Homo sapiens: one gene and its partners. The protein of the gene in region 2 interacts with the protein of the main gene of each other region in a pairwise test. Each region holds a gene or a part of one and is shown on either strand. Other genes may lie near its edges. The genes, in order: DSCAM, ZBTB47, CCDC136 and NCKIPSD.

What was found.
Region 1: the proteins of ZBTB47 (region 2) and DSCAM interact in a two-hybrid assay, tested with the Homo sapiens proteins (one large-scale study listed by BioGRID and IntAct).
Region 3: the proteins of ZBTB47 (region 2) and CCDC136 interact in a two-hybrid assay, tested with the Homo sapiens proteins (one large-scale study listed by BioGRID).
Region 4: the proteins of ZBTB47 (region 2) and NCKIPSD interact in binary tests that used the Homo sapiens proteins (3 or more experiments, as listed by UniProt).

Annotation. Positions count from the first base shown.
Region 1 is NC_000021.9:40,843,426-40,849,559, forward strand, and holds the start of DSCAM (cell adhesion molecule DSCAM isoform CHD2-42 precursor), read right to left. Parts: upstream 3,734-6,134; 5' UTR 3,237-3,733; coding exon 3,194-3,236; intron 1-3,193. UniProt on the Homo sapiens protein: Cell adhesion molecule that plays a role in neuronal self-avoidance. Promotes repulsion between specific neuronal processes of either the same cell or the same subtype of cells.
Region 2 is NC_000003.12:42,659,360-42,664,730, forward strand, and holds part of ZBTB47 (zinc finger and BTB domain-containing protein 47), read left to right. Parts: coding exon 1-469; intron 470-2,125; coding exon 2,126-2,273; intron 2,274-3,652; coding exon 3,653-3,768; intron 3,769-4,437; coding exon 4,438-4,582; intron 4,583-4,877; coding exon 4,878-5,239; 3' UTR 5,240-5,371. UniProt on the Homo sapiens protein: May be involved in transcriptional regulation.
Region 3 is NC_000007.14:128,805,042-128,810,412, reverse strand, and holds part of CCDC136 (coiled-coil domain-containing protein 136), read right to left. Parts: intron 5,055-5,371; coding exon 4,889-5,054; intron 4,653-4,888; coding exon 4,512-4,652; intron 4,177-4,511; coding exon 4,018-4,176; intron 3,726-4,017; coding exon 3,555-3,725; intron 3,054-3,554; coding exon 2,868-3,053; intron 1,878-2,867; exon of another isoform or gene 1,649-1,877; intron 964-1,648; coding exon 769-963; intron 275-768; coding exon 47-274; intron 1-46. UniProt on the Homo sapiens protein: May play a role in acrosome formation in spermatogenesis and in fertilization.
Region 4 is NC_000003.12:48,678,068-48,683,438, reverse strand, and holds part of NCKIPSD (NCK-interacting protein with SH3 domain), read left to right. Parts: intron 1-426; coding exon 427-536; intron 537-886; coding exon 887-1,091; intron 1,092-1,282; coding exon 1,283-1,394; intron 1,395-1,658; coding exon 1,659-2,152; intron 2,153-3,209; coding exon 3,210-3,380; intron 3,381-3,551; coding exon 3,552-3,638; intron 3,639-3,725; coding exon 3,726-3,864; intron 3,865-3,981; coding exon 3,982-4,062; intron 4,063-4,255; coding exon 4,256-4,384; intron 4,385-4,469; coding exon 4,470-4,562; intron 4,563-4,702; coding exon 4,703-4,875; intron 4,876-5,371. UniProt on the Homo sapiens protein: Has an important role in stress fiber formation induced by active diaphanous protein homolog 1 (DRF1). Induces microspike formation, in vivo. In vitro, stimulates N-WASP-induced ARP2/3 complex activation in the absence of CDC42.

The DNA of each region.
Region 1 (6,134 bases), on a different chromosome or scaffold from region 2:
GGATACTAGCAAAACTATATTACATATAATAAATCTAATTCTTCATCATTCTGTTTGTCTGAAGGCCTGGCTCTTCTTTTAGCAATAATTTTAAACTAGAATGTGCTCTGGGGTTAAAACCAGGAGAAATGGTAATGAAACACAATGCAGTAGGAAGCTTTGCTGAGAAGACACCGAGGGACGTGTGTGGGTGAGTGTCTGCACATACGTGTACCTTGGCTCCTTGCACTGTAACAGAAGCTCGCGTGTATTTCCAGAACATTGCAGAACAAATTGACTGCTTTAAAACACGATACTGCACCTCATCAGGTGAGGTCATTCATTTAAGGGTTTAACCTATGAAGGGCCTGGTCACTGACTTCTTCTTTTTTTTTTTTTTTTTTTCAAAAATACTGCCTGCAGCCTGTCTAGCAACCATACTTTTATTAAGAAATAACTGTACTTCTGATACATCAATAAGAAAAATATTGTTGTCTACTGTTAAAATGCAGATGTATTGTGGGCTTATTTTAATAGCCCCAAATATTAAACTACATAATCTTTTACAAATGAAAAAAAAAAGTTATCATGTCAGGCATTTTGATGCTTGAGGCCTAGCAATAATCAGTTTAGGTATTAGAATTCATCAATCTTTTATCACACACATTCAGAAATTTTTCAAAGTTGAGGTATAACAAAATATGACAGTTGTTGACAAAAATATTCTCAATTTTTTAAAGTTTAATTCAGATAGGTAGAAACCATTTACTCTTATATTTTTGAAATATGGTCTTACAAACAGGCATAGTTCCAAACTGGATTCTTATTTTATTTCAACATGTCTATATATTTTATGATCCTTTCCCCAGTATGTAATGAACACCATACCTTAGAAAACTGTTTAAAGCTGATTTCCCCTCCCCCCTTCAAAGATCCTAAAGCTTTACAGCAGGCTTTTAATGTTTTCATCCTTGATCATATAAAGAGAGGGGCATTTTTATACAAGACAGTTCCATAGCCTTCTGCTAGATTGGATCAGAATACGTAATACAGCAATGTAAAATATTCATTTGTGTTTGCTGTTTATGTCTAATATTGTGGAATCTACCTATATTTATTACAATAATGGTGATTATCAGTTGATTTTAAAAGTCTTGAAAATAATACTTGCAGAACTCACTATATGAGTACCTACATAATTTTTGCATATATTTTTCATATTGCAGAATATTTGAGGTTTCATATAATTGTATTACCATATATAATTATTTCTATGATTGTTTATTTTAGTTATAAAATGCTGATTCAGAAAAAAAGTCACACACACATATAGCATCTCTGTATCAGAGGCTAATAGTCTGTATCAGTATCATAAATTCTTCCATACCATTTTGTCATACAAAATGCTAAAACTGTAAATAAATACTGGCTGACTGACAACCAGCACAGCCTCTTTCATCATCCTGAAACACACACTTCCCAATGGGGTGCAAATTTTGTTTCTTCTTATAACCCAGGCCTTTCCAAGGAGTTCAGAAAGGTACTCCCTGACAGGCGAAACAGGGTGTCAAGGCTCTGTGTCTTTGGAACACATGTGTAGGCATCTCTACATTTCTTAGGAGGTCGCATTAGCAGAAGAGCAGAAAGGGCTGACTTCCCCGACACATCTCCGCATGTTCCCTAAGCACATCTGTCCCTGAAGGGAAATTCCCAGGAGGACACAGGACAGGTATGGTGCCCTCTGGGAAAGATGGGTGTCTTGTCAGAACTTGTTGCAATTCTTTCCTGCTAGGAAATCTCAAAATGAAAGTTTCAAACACTTTGCTTTAGGTTATACTGGAGAGCAAAGTATCATTTTCATGTTCATTTTGATAGTACCTTCTTTCAACTCTACCTTTTCTTAGTCACCGTTTTTTTAAAAAATTGACAATGCTCATGCATTTCTTCTGGCCTGTTGGTATGCTGATTCTTTAGGCACTGTCTAGGTAGGCAAAGAAAATGCACTGCCTTGCAGCCAACACACAGAGCTTCCCTGTGTGTCTTCCAGGAAAATCTTAGAGCCTCCCCTTTGCTTCTCGTATTTTCTCACAAGGGCCAGATTTCCTCTCTTCTCTTCTTTTACCTTCTCTTCTTCTCCTCTCTCTCTCTCTCTCTCTCTCTCTCTCTGTCTCTGTGTCTGTCTCGCTCTCTCTCCCTCCTCTCTTTCTCTCTCTCTCTCTCCTCTCTTCTGGCTAGGGGATTCTGCTTAATGGTTTAATTTCAACTGTCAGTAGGTTATACATTTTATGCAGATGTGTGTTCCAAAATTTGAAATGGGAATTTAAGCCGTAGCTACTCCCAGGCGATGTCAAATGATGACAATTTCCTCTGGTTCCCACAAGAGAGGAAGCCATTCATACATGTAAGTTCATATTTATGCGGTGACAGGCAGCCTAAGGTGCAGTCACACTTACTAATTGGGTCTGACTCAGTCAAGAGCAATAGCTTTCTAAATACCCAGGAAGAAATCATTTCAAAATATAATATTGGCTGGGCATGAGGAAATGTATGCTATTTACAATATTCACTGATTTCATTTTTACAACTATACAGGTGTTTTTTTTTTTTTAATTTGTCAACATTTCAGATGATGTAATGCTTATCAGTGCATATTTTTACATAAACGACTGTGAGGAGCATGAAGCAGCACGGGGTGCATAGAAGGACAGAACATTCTTAAAGCCCTCCTTGGTGCTGGAGATACATTGTACTAGCATGAAATTACGTGTTTGAAAAATCTCAAAAAGCATTGAATCTGAAGGGAGATGTTCCTCATTGACCCCTCCACTTGCGTGCACTTGGAATGTCACATCCCTTTCCAGGTTGTAATATTCAAAGTGGCAATCTTCCTGTCTCTCCTTCTGTCACCAAACCTGGTTTATTCTGAATGAGGCAGCTCTCTAGTACTGGAGTTAGGCTCTGAGCTGTCACTTGGCTAGGTAAGCGCCTTCCAATGATTACAGAGCAATTTCTCCCGGGCCTCTCCATTGCCACCTCTTCTCCCCCAAAAAATAAATATGATATTTAAAAAATAAATAAAAGCACGAAATTTTAAACACAGATGAAGCGGAAAAAGAAAGAAGACTTTACCCATGCATCCAATGCCACCCCCCACCCCCCCGCCCCCCCGGTCAATGATAAGGAAACGAAATTCATCACAAACCGAAAGGCTCACCATTCGCGAAGCTCTGGAACAAGGAGAGAGCCAGTATCCACATGCCCCTGCCGCTCCCCGGCCTCCCGCGAGCGACGCGCCGGCCTCGCCCCCCGCGCTCCGCCCGGCCCGGCTCCGCTCGCCGCTCGGCACCTGCCCGGGGGCCGCCGCCCGCCCGCCGCCCGCCGCCGCCGCCGCCGCTGCCTAGCCGCCCGGGCACGCGGCGCGGCCGGGCTCCGGAGCGAGGGCTGCGCTCGCCGCGCGCTGCGCTCCTGCACACCTGCTCCCGGGCGCCGCGCCCCACGCTGCGGCCGGAGCCCAGGTGCGCCGTCAGCTCAGTGGGCCCCCGGCAGGTCGGCAGGTGGAGAGAGCCGCAGACGCGGGCGTGAGCTCATCCCGGGCACTCGGCGCCCAGAATGCGCAGCCAGCGGCCTCCCGTGCGCCAGCCCTCACCCTCCGCATCCAGGCAGCAGGCGGGCGGGCAGGCTCATCTTTGCCGTGCTCCGGCCTCAGTCACATGGATCCCTCTGCCAACCTTCCCTGCCTGCGAGCCGGGCGAGTGAAGCCGAGCGCGGAGGCGAGCAGGGACCCCTCCCCTGCCTCTGGCCGCTGGGGCGCTCTGCAGTCTTAAAGCAGCAGCAGAGACGTGCAGCCGAACTGAGGCAGGACCGGGGAGAGCGCAGCCACCGCACAGTCACGCACAGTCATCAGGAGGAATTTCTTAGAGGCTTAAATAATCATTTCAACAGCTGCTTATTTTTAGTTATTTTCCTGCCGGTTGCTAATAAGGGATGGCCGGGGTGACTATTGCGGAAGGTGGCCAGCCACGGAGAGGTGAACATGAAATGCTCGTAGTTTTAATAAAATGTGCAGCTGGATTCCGATTCCGTATTTACTCTCAGAAAAGTCCAGTTCATTTGCTTAGAGGGAAATGCTCCTTCCAAATCCTTGCTGCTACTGTAAAGATCTCTATGATTTCACGGGCTAATTTTTAATTATCTTGAATACATGGTAGAATGCAAACACAAGCACTTCTAATTTTGCTCTCTGAATGGCGCATAAAAAAGCTGATTGAAATTGCTGATAATTTGAGTAATCCCAAACATATAGCCCCTTTCACGTTTCTGTGAAAAGTCAATATGTTAACATTTCCTGAATGTTCTGTATGATTCTTGAAGTCATGATAATATTTAAATTAAAGCTCTCACAAGGGCGTACATCTATCCATCACTTTGCAATATAATGACCGACAGGGCTGGAATGCACCCCAGTGTAGAAGCCAGGATGGAATGCTCACAGTCAGGACAATCAGGACTGAAAAAAAGCATTCGGTGGGGGTCAAGGGAGACATTTTCAAGGGAAATTGAGTAGGCTTTTTCCTAGGCACTAGGTATCCTAACTGGGCTCCATGTCCCCCTCCAAATACAGAAGAATGATGCACATCTCAGACAGCTCACAAAACACAGGAGAAGCAAATGGTGAGGCAGAAACAAAATGGTGCTTTACCAGGGTTGGGCACAAGATGGCCAGGCCCTGTGTACCAGGAAGGGTCAGCTGAGCCGGTGATGCTGCCTGGCTCACCACGGCTCTGCAGCTGCAGGTGATCACGTGCTGCCGCCCACTCAGGCTGCGCAGGCCCAGCCCCCAGTACCACGCACCAGAACCAGCATCCTCTGGCTTTGCAAATGCTGGGTGCTCAGTCCCTGGTCCTTCCCAAATGCAACCCAGGAAGGCAGGGGATGGGCCTGATTCTGTCCCTGCATCTGGCTGGTTGACCTATTCATTAATTCTTACTTGCACACTAGCCACCTGCAAGGGTGCCCAGGCACTGGGGTCAGGGAAACCCAGGGTCGAATTGCAGCTCCTCCACTACCCCGATGTGGGGCTTCTGCATGTGACTCGAGCCTCAATTTCCTCATATGCAGACTGGAAATTATCACAGTTCTTAACTCACAGAGGTGTGAAGATCTTTCCATCCGTTGACAGCACATGGTCACTGTAGTTAGCGATGGCTGTGGTTAACTGTTACTGAGTTTGGGAGCAGGGCTGGAAACATGATTTGTGGGGTCCACTATAAAATGAAAATGGAGAGCTCCTTTCTCAAAATGAAAAAGAAGCACCATAACAAGTGCTAAAACAGAACACTTCCTCCTTTCTTCCTGCCTCTCTCAACCAGTCATGGTGTTTTCTGCTACATGCTGCTCTTCCTTGGGCGTGGGAATGCACCCCTGTACAGACCCCACAGACCTTCCAGGTGACTCAGTGCAGTACAAGAGGCTTCCACTTGCCAGTTGCTTCCCTGCCCTTGGCTGCACCCACATGCTGTGGCCAGCCACAGTTAGGGGGTGGGGAAGCCACTGTCTCTCTCCCACAGCCCACTGTCCCAATGTACAGTGGACAGGAGATCCCTCAGGGATTGCAACCTCCATGCTGGGAAGCTCTGGGTATCTGGATTGGAGGTGGGCACAAGCCTCTGGCCACTTGTGGAATGTGCCCTGGCACTGCCAGCCTGCTGAGGGGATGGTCACTGCGAGGCCTTTCTCTGAACTCCTGCACAGTGCTTGTCCTGCACACATGCCCATACACTCACCAGAGATGGCAGGTGGTGGCAGAACACAGGCTTGCTGTTCCAAAATGATGCAGTTGCCACCCTGTTGGGAAGCAGCAACAATTGCAGGGGCAGAGGCTGCTCAAGAGCTGGGGGAACATGGGGTTGGGAAGTGGACAGCCAAGAACCTCTCCCAAAGGAGAGGTGGCAGGTGGCAGGTAGCAGGATGGTACAGAAGCCAAGGCTCCAAGCCCTCTTCATGCTCCATTGTCCCATTGGATTTAGAAAAGGTAAAACAGAGGTGATATCATTAAACATTTCAAGATGGTGACTACAGAGAATTCAACCCCAAGTGCAGGCCCTTCTTTGCCTGGGACCAGATGGGACCCCGTGTGAGTGCACCTCTCCGTGGTT
Region 2 (5,371 bases):
AGGGCCTAGTGAGCAGGATCAAGAGAGCTCTGAGGAGGAGGAGGGGGAGGAGGGGGAGGCTGGGGGCAAGCAGGGGCCACGGGGAAGCCGAAGCAGCCGGGCAGACCCCCCTCCCCACAGTCACATGGCCACACGGTCCCGGGAGAACGCCCGGCGCCGGGGTACCCCTGAACCTGAAGAAGCTGGGCGGCGGGGTGGGAAGAGGCCAAAGCCACCCCCTGGAGTGGCCTCTGCATCGGCCCGAGGGCCGCCAGCCACTGATGGGCTGGGGGCCAAGGTGAAGCTGGAGGAGAAGCAGCACCATCCATGCCAGAAGTGCCCACGAGTTTTCAACAACCGCTGGTACCTGGAGAAACACATGAATGTGACCCACAGCCGCATGCAGATCTGCGACCAGTGCGGCAAGCGCTTCCTGCTGGAGAGCGAGCTGCTGCTGCACAGGCAGACAGACTGCGAGCGCAACATCCAGGTGGGCCTCACGTGGCTGGGGGCAGGGCAGAGGCTGTCCAGGTGGGGCTAGGCCATAACTGGGCTCTGGGCACCTAGTGTCTTGCTGACTGCATTACCTAGGTGGTCTGCGGAGACCAGACTTAGCCCCCAGACAGGCTGGCCCAGGCCCAGTTCTCAGGGTGGTTAGAGCTCAGGGGTAACATCAAGCCGAGCTTCCTGGGAGAGGTGGATAGAGTTGGGCGCATGAAGAGATGTGCAGAGGATTGGAACAAACAGTACCCTTGGCCAGAGGGACAAAGGGGACACATGGACTTGGGAGGATGAGAGTGGAGAGTTGTCTGAGCAGACAAGGCCAGAAGACAGGCCACTCTGGGTGGGATGAGTCAGACGGGGTTTTAACAAACACGGGGGCTGTAGGAAGGCCAGCAGGGCCACTGTGTATAGTTTCACAGGTTGTGCACTGCAGCAAGTGAGCACACGATGGGAGGAGGGGTTTGCCCAGAGGGATGCCATCCTCCACTTCCCACAAAAGTGCTGTATGGAGGAGGGGGCAGCCCAGCAGGAGGCAGCCCCCACTTTCAGCTCTTTGGGGATGCCAGCTCCCATGGGCCTGGGAAAAAGGGATTGGGTGAGAAATTTGGGAAGAGCAGAGGCTGCTGGGGTAAGCAGGGGAGCTGAGCTGGCTGCTGGGCCTTGAGCCAGCCTGAGTCTGTTTGTGCCAGCCTCACTTCTCAGGGTGGGGTGGCACAGGGCCAGCCAGGCTCCCACGGGTGGTTTTCACCTCTTCTGGCCCAGGAGAAGGGGGAAAGGTAGCAGGTAGGTGGGTGCTAATTGCCTGCGCTAATTGCTAATTGCAGTGCCCTGTGGAGAAAGTGTTACCCGGGGGTCACCTGCTATCCTGCCCCACCCTTGTGTACCTGTGCCCACTTGCCCGCCTGCTGGGCTGCCCTTTGATGCTCTAACTGCTGCGCACCTGAGTCTCCCTCCTGAAGGAAAAAGAAGCTTCTGCCCCATCCAACCTGAGTACCCTGACCAATTTCTGCCCAAGCCTTGGCCTAGCCTCCATCCCTGTGGGGTGTCCTGCATAGATGGGCAGGACAAGGGTCCAGGAGAACAAATGGGGGGATATGGTCCCCAAGATCCCCCACCACTCTCTGTGCCTGATGGGACCTTGAGCCTCCTGCTGTCCTCCTCAGCCAACGCCTCTGGGACTCATCCTCTTGGCGATATTCATGGTGTCATGGCACAGGTCCCAGCAGGAGGAGGCAGCAGTGATAATGGCTCACTCTGTGGGACCTGTTATCTCTGCGTGTAGCCTCCATACCAGAGGGCGCCCTTCAGCTAGTTGTCTGCCTTACCTCTATAGACAGACAAAGGGTGATGCCTTTGGAAGCCCTTGTTGAAATGAGCCCAGAGTGGGGAATTTCCTGGAAGAGGTGACCCCTGACCCTAGTTAACTCAAGGATGAAGGAGGACACCAGGCTGTGTGTTTGGGGGTGTTTAAGGAGTTTTCATCCCCAACCTTAGAAACATCAGAGCTGGCTGGCTGTTGGCATCAAGGGCTCTCCAGCATATTTCAAGTGGGAAAACTGAGGCCAGACGGGGGCAGTAGCTTGCCCAAGTCCAAGACCCTGGGGACTCAGGACCCAGGGCCTCAAGTCCTCTTATTCTGCAGTGTGTGACATGTGGCAAAGCTTTCAAGAAGCTTTGGTCCCTCCATGAGCATAACAAGATTGTGCACGGCTACGCAGAGAAGAAGTTCTCATGCGAGATCTGTGAGAAGAAGTTCTACACCATGGCCCACGTGCGTAAGCACATGGTTGGTAAGTCTGGGCCACTGGGGGATGGAGCCAGAGGATAGAGATGGACCAGCTTCTGGCTGGTGGATGGGAAAGACTTCACATCCAAGGGCAATGTGAAGGGGTGAGGAGGCCCCTCTCAGCTAGGAGGCCTGGGGAGGTTGGTTCCAGTGGCAGGTGTAGCCTGGACAGGCTCTGGGGCCAGGGCTGGCATGTACAGTTGGGCAGGCTGCACATTGCACAAGGGTGCCTGGACAAGATGGCAGGTGGGAACCGGAATCAAGCTGGCACACTGCTAACCAGGCTGTGCATCCTGGCACGGGCTCGTGTCCACCCAGGGAAAAGAATACCTTTTCCTAATTATACAAAGTGCTGTATGGGCTGGTACAGGCCCTGTGTCAGTTTGATGACAGCTGTGCCTCTGATTCTTTCTTACCTTCTGGTCCTCATAGGGCTTCAGGCCTCTCTGAATGCAGCCTCCCCTCAGGGTTCATGCCTGGACACAGTAAGGAGGTCCCCCAATTGTGTGTTTTGGCCACGCCACTGCCCCAGGCAAGGCTGCCCACCTGCTGTATGTGGGCCTGGCAGAGCCTCATGTCCCTACAGCCCTGCCTTCCTTGCCCGCTCCAAGTCTGGGCCTTGAGGGGGAGGGGTAGCCAAGGCAGACAGTGAGCCCCTGGCCAGGTCCTAATCCCTTTCTCCATGAGACAGTGCTGGGGGCCCTCCAGCATGAACTGACTGGAAGCTGGGACCCTGCGGCCTAGGTCTCAGCCAGGAGCATGCTGGGTAAACCAGGACTGGTGTCTGTGAGCTTGAAGGTGAGCCTTCTGTCTCCAGTGGCCACCTACCAGATCCTTGAAGAGTTTGTTAGTCCTCACCCATCCGTGGGTGCTGGGAGGAGTGCAGCTAACTTCCTCCAGACTGCTGGCTAGGGCCTGAGACCAGGGCCTTTCTGCATATGTCCCCTCTAAAGCCCACCACCCCTGAAGCTCAGGACCACTATGAGTCCCTTTTTATAGGAGAGGAAGCGGAGGTCCAGAGAGACTGAGTGGGAAGCCAGTGGTCGGGCCGGGATTTGAGCTGAAGCCAGGTCCACCCAGGGTCCTTCCATCCTTCCCTGAAGCTTTGGGGGCAAGGCAGCCTTGGCCACTTCCCTTGACCAGAGGCTAAAGAACCACAGAGCCCCAGCATGTCTGAGGCAGACCTTCAGAGCAGATAGGAGACCCAGCCATGGAGGCAGGGGGCCTCTCCTGGGAATCAGCACAGGTCCTGGGACAGAGTATAAGGCCAGCCCCAGAGAAGGGTGGTGGCACAGGGCTGCCCCAGGAGGCAGGGTCTGGGCCCAACGTCGGGGTGCTTGGGCAGGCCCGTAAAACATGATGGCCCTGGTGCCCACCTCGTAGCCCACACCAAGGACATGCCCTTCACCTGCGAGACCTGCGGAAAGTCCTTCAAGCGCAGCATGTCCCTCAAGGTGCACTCACTGCAGCACTCAGGGGAGAAGCCGTTCAGATGTGAGGTGAGCTTCCATCTCCTGCCTGGCCTGCCCGAGGGGTCACCTGGGAGGGGCAGGAATCAGGGAGCGCAGCTGCTGAAAAACAAAGGGCTAGGGGGTGGAATGTAGTGTCCAGAAAGAGAGAGCCCTGCCCTCTGAGGTCTGCAGCCCCTGCCTCCCACTCCCACCCAGCCCCTACTCTTCTCTGGCCCACTCCCATCCTGCCCTTCCTTCCCCAACCCAGCCCCACACACTCAGGGTGGGAAGTGTGTGTGGGCTACAGCCCTAGGAGCAGGCTTTCTGGGGAGGCAGATTCAGGAGCATCCCAGGCCTGGAGCTCAGATGAGACAACAGAGCTGCAGGTGGGGAGGTGGGGGCAGGGGCTGGGCGTCTGATCAGGAGGAAGGATGAGGGACCTCGTGCCTTAAGCATGGGGCTCCCTCTACTCTCTGGCTTTTTCCCACTTCCGACCCCCATTCCCCACCTAAGCCTTGGGTGCTTGTGGCCTCTCCTCTTGTGCCCATGTACTGCCCACCCAGATGCACCTCGGCTTGCCCTCATGTCCCCATCTCCTTGCCCAGGAGCCCCTGAGTGTGTCCCTCCTTGGCCCTGTGGCCACAGGGGAGCTGTTCCCTCCACAAAGGCTGCTCTTCTGCTCTGTGCCTGGGCCTCACCCCCAAACCCCACCCCCAGAACTGCAATGAGCGCTTCCAGTACAAGTACCAGCTGCGGTCACACATGAGCATCCACATTGGCCACAAGCAGTTCATGTGCCAATGGTGCGGCAAGGACTTCAACATGAAGCAGTACTTCGATGAGCACATGAAGACCCACACAGGTGCGGCTGCCCCTGGGGACGGAGCTCGGTGCCGGGCCTGGGACCCCTTCTCAGCCCCGCTCAGGACACCTGGAATAATCTTGGCCACACCCCTTCTCAAGTCTGGGCCTCCGTTTACCCATGCTTCCTGCCTCCCAGGGTTGGGTGAGGCTGGCACAAAATGCCCCAGGGTCGGGGAGGATCTGAGAGCGCCGGGGCTGGGCCCCACTATGGCTCCATGGGAGACGGAGGCTGGCCCCAGACTGGGGTGTGGCGACCCCTCACTGACGCCCTGCTGCCCACCCCCAACCCCCAGGAGAGAAGCCGTACATCTGCGAGATCTGTGGCAAGAGCTTCACCAGCCGGCCCAACATGAAGCGGCACCGGCGCACGCACACGGGCGAGAAGCCGTACCCGTGCGACGTGTGTGGCCAGCGCTTCCGCTTCTCCAACATGCTCAAGGCCCACAAGGAGAAGTGCTTCCGCGTCAGCCACACCCTGGCCGGCGACGGCGTCCCCGCTGCCCCAGGCCTGCCCCCAACCCAGCCCCAGGCGCACGCACTGCCCCTGCTCCCGGGGCTGCCCCAGACCCTGCCGCCCCCGCCCCACCTGCCGCCCCCGCCTCCGCTCTTCCCCACCACTGCCAGCCCCGGCGGGAGGATGAACGCCAACAACTAGCTGCCGAGCTGCACCCGTGCACCCGCTGGGGCCTGGAGTCAGGGCCCACTCCAGGAGGGACCCACTGCCTTCCCGGGGAGCACAGTAGTGCGGGCCTGGGCCCTGCTCCACCTCCAGAAGTGGCTGGATGTA
Region 3 (5,371 bases), on a different chromosome or scaffold from region 2:
CTGTTGTGCTCAGGAGAACTGTCTCCCTACCTCTTGCTATGGTTACCTTGTTTCGATTACATTTGGAGGACTTAGCCAATTTGGAATCATCGGGATTCTCCAACACTTCCTGGAAATGAGACTCTTTGAAACGTCGCAGCTCTTCGTGGATCTCTAATTGTTCTTTTAATACACAGTCTTGGTTCTGTATCAGCTTCTTCTGTTCCTCCTGCATGCCTTGGTAGAGCAGCTGCAGCTCACACAGGTCTTCTAACTTGGTGAGTAGCTCCTGACTCTGAGGCGGAGTAGAAGGAAGGAGGCAAGGGATGGTGGTGGTCACACAGGAAGTCTGATGCCTCCTTGGTGCCTCATCCCCGTTGTGAACAATTCCCTGAAGAATCTCAGGGTTGACTTCACAGAGCCCATCTGGGGACGGGGGAGCCCTTCTATGGAGACCTGCTAAAAGTGGCAGTGGTCTCTTGTGTTGGGATATATTTTGTAGTTTACAAAGTGGCTTCAGGTGCATTTTCTCCAGATGGACTAAATACCTAAATATAAACTGCTGCACAGATTCCTGAGTATAAAAGGTATTTTAAGATTTAAAGCCCTTATAAGAAAAACTCTAATTGGCTCTATGGAGCTTTTTGGTTTGGGGAGAGTGGTGAGAAAGTAAGGAGTGGTTGGTAAGAGAAAAAGTTCAATCCCCACCCTTTTATTTTTCCCTAGTCACACAGGGAAGCTTCTCAGAGCAGCTTCCCCGCAGTTAGCAGCTGCCTGTGGCAGAGTTACCTTGAGTAAGAGGCCACTCTTTGGCAGTGGCAGTGTGAGCCTGTGCAGCTCTTCCTGCAGCTGGCCCTGCTCCTCCTGCATCCTCCTCTGATCCTCCAGGAGCTCACACTGCTCCATCTGCAGCTGCCCCATCTCCTTCTGGCTGGCCTTGTACTTTTCCTGCAATTCTGTCAGTCTGGACAGCAGTGTGTCACACTGTGGGTGGGGGCGGGTGTGGAGGGGGTGGTTACTCTGTAAGGTAAGCTTCTTGGGTGGCTAACAGAGCACTTCTGCGCTCTCCTGCCTCTTGTGATCCTCTCCCTGTGCAGTCACCTTGGACTGGTCACCCCAAGCCACAATGCATTCTGGCTGTTTAGATACCGATTGGGGATCCCCTGCAGGCTGCTCCTTCAGAGCAGGTTGCTCTAGACTGGTGGCTGGCCTTGCTCTAAACTTCCACCATTCCTTTCTGGGGGCAGTTTGATGGGGAATGCTATCGATGCCCCTTTCTCATTTCCCCCTTCCTCTTCTCCGGCCCTTTCCTTTATACACCATATTCCCACCCTGTTGGGAACTCTTAGCTCCTGTTATTCTCATTAACCCCAGTTGTTTTTTAATGCAACTACACTCCTTACAAATAAGGACTTAATTTCACCCTAATTTTTCCCATTTTTGCTTTCCTAATTCTCTCTTTAAATCTTTAGAAAGTATGCGCTATTGGTAAATTTGGGTTGAGAAGACTAAATCATCCCATTTCCAAAAACCCAGATCTTCTAATATCAGACAGATCTCAATGCTGTTTTACGGCTAGAGAAAAAGCAGGTGCTGTCTGCCAGCATGCTTCTCCTTTCCCATCATTTTTCCCATTAGGGGAAGAGGTGACGAGCAAGTCACAGATCACCTGGGCTCCTAAATTGAGTAGCAGTGGAAAAAGGAGGAAACGTGAGCCTGGATATAGAAAGGCAAAGAGACTGCTGAGGTGGCCCAAATAACCTTCCCAGTCCTCCGTCTCCTGAAGGCCTTTCCCCAGGGACAGGAACTACTGAGTTTTCTGGCAGAATGTGACCAACTCCACCATCGTTAGAGACTCTTGGGCCTCTTCTCCAACATGCTTCAACACCTTTCCATTTCCCATCAGTAATCAGGAGCTGAAAGTGCTCAACAGGATAAATGATAACGGCTTGCATTTTATACACTATGGAAAAGAAAAAAAATGAATAAGGCCTTATTTATCACTACCAGGATTTACTGCTAAAAGGAAGTGAGTTAAGAGTAGTATTCTCTTCCATTTAAAGAGGGCACAATTCAACCTTCCACAATTTAATTACTGGCAGGGCATGGCGGCTCATGCCTGTAATCCCAGCACCTTGGGAGGCCGAGGCAGGTGGATCACCTGAGGTCAGGAGTTCGAGACCAGCCTGACCAACATGGCGAAACCCGGTCTCAACTAAAAATACAAAAATTAGCCAGGCACAATGGCATGTGCCTGTAGTCCCAGCTACTTGGGAGGCTGAGATAGGAGAATTGCTTGAACCCAGGAGGCGGAGGCTGCAGTGAGCTGAGATCGTGTCACTGCACACTCCAGCCTGGGCGACAGAGTGAGACTCCATTTCATAAAAAAAGAATTTAACTACTTCAAAGTCACAGAATAAATCCTAGAAGAGCCTAGGTCCTTCTCTTGCCCAATCAGCACTCTGGGCACAAGACCGTACCCCTTTATAAGACCATTTGCAATCTGACCCAGAAAACTGGCCCCTTTCTCTAGTTCCAACAATAATATTTGTGTAATGGGCCCATGTATATGTTCCCCTCCAAGAATGACTAGATATCACTACAGTTCTAATACCATTGTATAAATGTCTACATACATGGAATCATGTGTAAAACTTTCAGGGGTTCAGACTGGGATCCAAAGGTATTGATCCTACTAAGCTGTGGCTCTGGCTCAAAGTCAAGGTCAGGGCAAACAATTTTGAAGTTAGCAGCATGTGGCCCTGCCTCTGCTTCCTGCCTAGGAAGGCCATCAAGCCCTTGGGTTGGGTGCCTTCACTTTTTGCCTCTGTACCTCTTCTCTCTGGAGCAAGTGCCCAGGAGCTGTCACCTCTCTGAACGACAATTACCTTATTAGCACACTTTCCTTTGTCCTCCGGAATGGGGTGGGAGGCCTTGAGCTCTTTCAGCTCCAGCTGGCAGAGCAGGAGGTCCTGCTCCAGCTGGTCATACATGTGCTTCTGCCGCTCCAGCTCGTCCTTGCTGGCCTGGTACAGCTGCTTCATCTCCTGAAGCTGAGCGTGCGTCTCTGTGTCCTGGGCAGGGGAGGCAGGCCTGGCCATCATCCCAGGCACTCCTGCTGCTGGACTCTCTCCTCCCAGGCGGGGACTAAGGGGACCCATCTTCCCTTGTCCTTCTCAGCCCCAATTTCATCCCAGCCAGGGATAGATACCCAAGATGGACCCGTCCCTGACAGGCTTGAAACACAGACCTTCCCAGTGCAGCCTTTCCAGTTAAATAAATAAATAAATAAATATAAAAATAATTTAAAAAGAAACACAGACCTTCTGGGGCTTCCTTTTTTGGGAGGTGGGGAGGCAAAGGGACTTCCTTTTTATATGCTGCTTTTCTGATTTAAAATCAAAGGAAGCTGAGAGCCTTGTGACTCCCCGAGGTCACCTTTCTCCTAAGCACCTCTTTGGCCCCCTCACTGCCAGCTCCTCCACACTCCTACCATTCCCTCTCGTCCTCTGTGCTCTCACCCTCACACAAGATGATGCCTGGCTACATCCTCCCTCACCAGGAGCTTCTTTTACCTTCTCATTGCTCTCTTTGAAGGAGGCCACCGTATCCCTGAGGTGCTGCAGCTCTGCCTCATGGCACTGCAGCTCCTCCTGCAGCTGCTGCTGCCGTTCCAGCAGCTTTTCCTTCTCACATGTGACGTTCTGGTGCTGGAGGTGCAGCTTCTGCAGCCGGCACAGTAACTCCTATGGTAGAGGGGGCTTTGGGCAGTGCCTTTGGGCTCCTTAACCCACTCACTCTTCTGTGTGAGTCACTTGAAGACACCAACAGTCTAAGATTTGCTTCTTCCTGCCCTTCACTTCCTAATGTCCTCATATCTAATGTAGTACTCGAGCAGGGCTGGAGTTCTTTACCTGTGGTGCTGCCTATGTGGTTGCTGGAATTATTTTTAACTCACTACTCTTATCCACCTTCCCCAAAACCTCAGAAGGATGCCCTTAGCACCTAAGTTGTCCCCTCACCTCTGGTTGCTGTTACCTTCTCACTCTGGTTTTCTACAAGTGTGGATTTCATGACTTTGAGCTGCCGGAGCTCAGTCTGAAGTTGCAGCTGCATCTTCAAGAGCTCGTTCTGCTCATCCTGGCTAGTATCATATTTTTTCTGCAGGGTACAGAGTCTGGACTTCAGCTCCTCATTCTGTGGTAGGGAGGATGTGAGTAGAACAGTTACTCTCAAGAAACAGCAGGTCTTTCTACGGATCAGTTGGGTTCCTTTTCAGATGCAGACATCTTGAGGAGCTCCCACAGGTCTAGGGTTTGGTTTCTTCTGTGAGATGGACACTCAGTAATGACCACCATTTCTAGAATGCAGTGCTATATGACTTCTACAGTTGGTTTCCAGCAGACTGTGCCCAGTTGCAGGGCAAGAGTCAGCAGAGCACAGCCATACTCACTGTGCCCACCCCGGTTGAAGCAGCCCCTCCATGAGGCCCTTCTGCCCCCACCCCAGATGCCTCCCCGGGCAGTGTTTACCTGGGTGACACTGTGGGAGGTCTGAAACCGAAGCACCTCATTCTGAGCACACTTGAGCTCCCTCTGCAGCCGCCTCTGCTCCTCCTCACTGACCTGGCGATGATGCTGTAGCTCTTCCAACTCACAACACAATTCCTGACACTATGTGGGAAATGGAACAGGGAGGCTTGTTTACTACAGATACCACATATGCTCCAAGAACAAGCTTGGGGAAAGCATGGCGCTCTTTGACTGGAAGATTTACATCAGGCAAGTGAGACCCCAGAGTACTATCTCCCTCCACAGTGGATGCCTATGGAGATGTTTCTACCACAGGCTGGGAGAAGGTGAAAGAAAGACAAGAAATGTGCCTGCCTTCCCCACCCTCTGTGCCCTACCTTGTTCTTCATGCCATGCATCTGCTCTTCAGCATCCCGTAGCTGCTGCCGTAACAACTGCATTTCAGGATCAGGCTCTAAGAAATCCATTTCTGAAGTCTGAGACTCTGCTGACGTCATACTCAGTGTTTGGGACTGCAGCCATCTCTCTGTTGCTCTCTGTGTCCTGCAATTCAGAACCGCAGAGCTATGCTTGAAGGGAGTTCTGCCTGGCATCACCAGCCATGCAGGCTTTGTCCTGATACCTTCATTTTAGGCCAAAGATAGTAAGGGGCCTTCTATTGTGACTCACCGCTCAGATAAACATGCTTAAAAGACTACAGAAAGTCTCCAGCCCCTCAATCTGCAAAGGTGTGTTTGGCTCTGGGAGACCCTTAGAGTGCCAGTCCAGTTAGTTTTGAGGCTAGGCCTAGTCAAGCCCACTCCAATCTGGAAGCATTGTGCCTGCCATTAGACTGAAACAAGTCTATGCAGACAATAAAA
Region 4 (5,371 bases), 6.0 Mb from region 2:
TGATGTATTAAGGATTCCAGATACTGGAGACTTCCTGTTTGGCATCTCAACCTGGGCTCTGAGCCAAGACCAGGGATAGACGAGGTATGCGCTCCTGGCTGCAAGCTGGGAGCCCCTGGGCTATGTTTTTGCTTTAGACCTCTGATTTTCAGAAACATCTTAGCCAAGAGCCTTGCTGTGGGGTAAAATCCTGATCAGGACCTAATATGTAATGTGGCAGCATGGGGGTCACCCTGTGCCTCAGCTCCCTGAGTGATACAGTTTGAGAACCCCATTCCATATTCTGGTTCAACTTTTTGTGCTATGTCTAGCATTCCAGGCTTTCGCTATATTGGTTCTCTGCCCTGGGTTCTATCTCGGGCTGGGCCTGGGCTGAGCACCTCCGTTTGGCCTTCAGGTCTAACTGCTGTCCCCTGCCCCCCCCAGGGCCTGGAGCAGGATGTCCTCCAGGCCATTGACCGGGCCATCGAGGCTGTACACAACACAGCCATGCGGGATGGTGGCAAGTACAGCCTGGAACAGCGTGGAGTCCTCCAGTGAGTGTTGAGGGGAGTGAAGTGGGACCTCCCGGTGAGCATGGTGGGGTGGGGTTCTTCAATGAGTGTCATGGGGCAGGTGGGCCTGGGAAATGCGAGGGTTGGCAAGGGTGGTGGGGGAATGGCACCTCCCAGTGAGCAAGGTGGGGTCGGGTCCTTCAGTGAGCACCAGGGGTGTGCAGAGCGCAGGACTGAGGATAGTATGGGGTACTGTAGGCTGGGGTGGAGCATGGAGGAGATGGGGATGTCTGAGGGGCCTGGGCTATGGGGTCCCAGCATCCCACAGGGGCATATGAGGACTTTGAGCTGTGAGATGCAACCCCCCAATAGTCTTCCTGTCCTTCCATCAGGAAGCTGATCCACCACCGGAAAGAGACCCTGTCACGCAGAGGCCCTTCAGCCTCCAGTGTTGCAGTTATGACCTCATCAACCAGTGACCACCACTTGGATGCTGCTGCAGCCAGGCAGCCCAATGGGGTGTGTCGAGCTGGGTTCGAGCGGCAGCACAGCCTACCCAGTTCTGAGCATCTTGGGGCAGATGGAGGCCTCTACCAGGTGTGTGGGGAGGACATCGTGGAGAAGGGAGGTGGGTGGAACTTGAGGCTTCATCCAGAGGCTCAAGGGGTCCACTCAGGAGTGATGCGGCCCAGAGCCATAGTCCTGCCCACAGCCAGGGCTCAGGGCCCGAGCCTCGCTGACGCTCTAGATGTCAGTCTGTCCTCCAAGATCCTACTTCCATCTTCCAGATCCCACTTCCATCTTCCCAGATCCCACCACAGCCTCGCCGAGCAGCACCCACCACACCGCCCCCACCAGTGAAGCGCCGAGACCGCGAGGCCCTGATGGCCTCTGGGAGTGGTAAGAAGGCAGGGTTAGGGGAATTCAGGTGGAGGCACCCTATGCTTGGAATGGTTGTGCTGCCTGTGTCAGGGAAATGGAGGCTCTAAGCTGGGGAAGAGGACAGGACTCCCATTTTGGGGCAATTAGGGGCTCTGGGCTTTGTGAGGAGGCAGTGCCTAGCAGAGAAACTAGGCCCTGTGTTAGGGGACAGGGGATCTGGGCTGTGAAGGGTATGGTTTTCCAGGGGGCTGCCCTGGCCCAGCTTCTACTCACTGCTCGCAGGTGGCCACAACACCATGCCCTCCGGGGGTAACTCTGTGTCCAGCGGCTCCTCAGTCAGCAGCACCTCCCTGGACACGCTCTATACCAGCTCCAGCCCATCTGAACCAGGCTCCAGCTGCTCACCCACACCCCCACCTGTGCCCCGCCGAGGCACCCACACCACCGTGTCCCAAGTCCAGCCCCCTCCCTCCAAGGCATCAGCACCTGAACCCCCTGCAGAAGAAGAAGTGGCAACTGGTACAACCTCAGCCTCTGATGACCTGGAAGCCCTGGGTACACTGAGCCTGGGGACCACAGAGGAGAAGGCAGCAGCTGAGGCGGCTGTGCCCAGGACCATTGGGGCCGAGCTGATGGAGCTGGTGCGGAGAAACACTGGCCTGAGCCACGAATTATGCCGGGTGGCCATCGGCATCATAGTGGGTCACATCCAGGCCTCGGTGCCGGCCAGCTCACCAGTCATGGAGCAGGTCCTCCTCTCACTCGTAGAGGGCAAGGTGAGGGTGGGCGGCACAGCAGGGCCACCCTGCTACCCACCCTGTTCCCACCGTCACACACTTGTCCAGCCTGTACATTACAGGTATTTCTCAAGCTCTGGCTCTGAGCTCTTACTGTGCTGGGCACTGGGGACGTTGAGCTGATTTCTGAAGCAGAAAGGAAGGACAAGCATTCCAGGCAGATGCGCAGCCTGGACAAGGGCCACAAGGCAGGACTGAGCCTGGCTTGTGGGAGGAAGTGGAACAAGGCCTGCAGGACTGGAACACAGGGAGTGAGGGAGTGGGTGCTGTAGGAGGAGGTGAGACCTGGGGCAGGTGACAGATAAGACGACATGCGGGTGGCCAAGAGTTCTGTCTGGCTGCAGGGAAGGAATGGACACGGCGTGGGTGAGGGTAGTGCCTTGCTGACCTTGGCAGTAAGAGACATGGGTGCTGGGAGAGCTGGGATGGAGTCCTAGGTGCTGACATGGATGAGAGGGAGTGAGGTGTGTGGGCATCATGGGATGGGTGGGATCCTTGGCACTCATGAGCAGGATGGGGGCAGTGAGCCCAGCATACATGATGGGGGTCAGACAGACCAAAGGTCCCTCTTTAGTGCTCCATGGTTCCTGTTACACTTCTGGTTTGGGTGTTGGGGAGTGGGCCAATGGGCTTGGCTGTGCTGGGCACAACAGCTAGTGCCTGGTCAGCAGGGTTCAAGGAAAATGTGGCAAGTTGGTAGATGACAGGCCTGTGCCATTTTGTGTGGAATGGGAGAGTGAGGTCTCAGAGTCACATTCTGGCAGTGACAGAGTTCATGGCCCTCCTAGTTGGGGGTGTTTATCCAGGTCTGGGATGAGAGGCGAGCTGTTGAAAACCCCCTACAGATGAGTCTCCCGTTGACTCCTGTCCTGGGAGGTCATCAAGACTGGAGTTGAGCCTCCTGTCCAGTGTGGGCCAGGAGGGACTTGAGTTCATGGAGTAAAAGTCCACAGATGGACTCTCCAGGCCTTGGAGGCTCCCTGGAGATGGTGAGGGCAGGGAGTGTGCTGAGTCATGCCTTGCCCTCTCCCTCTAGGACCTCAGCATGGCCCTGCCCTCAGGGCAGGTCTGCCACGACCAGCAGAGGCTGGAGGTGATCTTTGCAGACCTGGCTCGCCGGAAGGACGACGCCCAGCAGCGCAGTTGGGCACTATATGAGGATGAGGGTGTCATCCGCTGCTACCTAGAGGAGCTGCTGCATATTCTGGTAAGGGTGGGGTCCCACACACATACCCCACATGGGGAACAGTGGCCCCCACCCTGTAGCATCCCTCACAGTGCTAGGAGTCTCCCCTACACATATGTGCTCAGCCCTCTCTTGTGCGGCTGCACAGCTCCGCTCATGGTGGCTGATGCTCTCACTTCCTCATTTCTGTAGACTGATGCAGACCCTGAAGTTTGCAAGAAAATGTGCAAGAGAAACGAGTTCGAGTCTGTCCTGGCCTTGGTGGCCTATTACCAAATGGTATGTGCAGGATGGAGGGGAGGGGTAATGGAGAGACCTAGATAGTGGGGGAGTTCCAGGCACTGAGCACGCAGGGTTCCCTGCCAGGAACACCGAGCATCACTGCGGCTGCTGCTCCTCAAGTGCTTTGGCGCCATGTGCAGCCTGGATGCAGCCATCATCTCCACGCTTGTGTCATCCGTGCTGCCTGTAGAGCTGGCGAGGGACATGCAGACAGACACGCAGGGTGAGGCTGGAGGGCGGGGTAGGAGGGAACTTCCTGCTATCTGGAGGGTGTTCCTGCCATCTGCTGGGGTTTCCTGCCATCTTTGGGGACTCTGACTGCCTGCCTTGTCCCCCCCAGACCACCAGAAACTCTGTTACTCTGCCCTCATCCTGGCCATGGTCTTCTCCATGGGAGAGGCAGTGCCCTATGCACACTATGGTAAGAATGCAGTAACCGACCAGCTGATCACAGGTCCTAAGCCAGGGCCCATTGCCCGAGGGCCTGGGACCTGCTGACTACACAGCCTAGCAGGGAGAGGCTATCCCCAAGGCTCACAGAAAGCCAGGAAGGGTGGGTGGTGCGGGGGTCGGAGGGGAATGGGGCTGCAGACTTCTGTGCGCCCCTCTCCCAGAGCACCTGGGCACGCCTTTCGCCCAGTTCCTACTGAACATCGTCGAGGATGGGCTGCCCTTGGACACCACAGAGCAGCTGCCGGACCTCTGCGTGAACCTGCTTCTGGCTCTCAACCTGCACCTGCCAGGTGGGGTGGGGCCTGGCTGGGCGGTGGCTGAGCACATGGTGGCTCTCAGGCTCAGCACCCTGTCTATACCCATGTCCTTCCTTAGCTGCTGACCAGAATGTCATCATGGCTGCCCTGAGCAAACACGCCAATGTCAAGATCTTCTCCGAGAAGCTGTTGTTGCTCCTGAACAGAGGGGGTGAGGGCCCGGGAATCTGCGCGGGTACCACTTCCATGCCCTGTGACTCCATGACCCCTGCAATGACTCCCGTAACCCCCTGGGGTGACTCTGGGATCCCCACAAGGTCCACCCTGACCGCTATGACCCCTGCCTCCTAGATGACCCTGTGCGCATCTTCAAACATGAGCCACAGCCACCACACTCTGTCCTCAAGTTCCTGCAGGACGTGTTTGGCAGCCCGGCCACAGCTGCCATCTTCTACCACACAGACATGATGGCTCTCATTGACATCACTGTGCGGCACATCGCAGACCTGTCACCAGGAGACAAGGTGCCTGGAGGTGGCTGCAGCAGCGGGGGTCACTGTGTGGAAACTGAAACAAAATGGTGGGGGGCATGACATTGAGTGGAGATGAGGGGGCAAGGCCACTGCTGGAGCCAGGTAAGTGTAGGAGGCCATGATAGGTGCACCAAGACCCAAAGGAGCCAGCCATGAGGTGATCTGGAGGTGGTGGGGCTGGAGGAGGCTGGAGAGGAGGGAGTGGAGGGAGATGAGGCATGGAGGATGGAGTTTACACAAAGCCTCGGAGGCTGCTGCAAGAGGTTGTGATCTCAGGACCGGGGAATGTGATGTGATTAACATCCCACATGGAATCAACTGCATGCCAGCAGAGTGGAAGCCAGCCAGGGAGGAAGCAGCCTCAGTGGTCCAGGTGGCATGGATGGGGTGGGGATGGGATAGGTCGTGGCAGTGGCAGTGGCGAGAAGAGGCCAGCTGTGGAGTGTTTAGTAAGTGGATCTGGCAGGGCTTGCCACTTGATTTATCT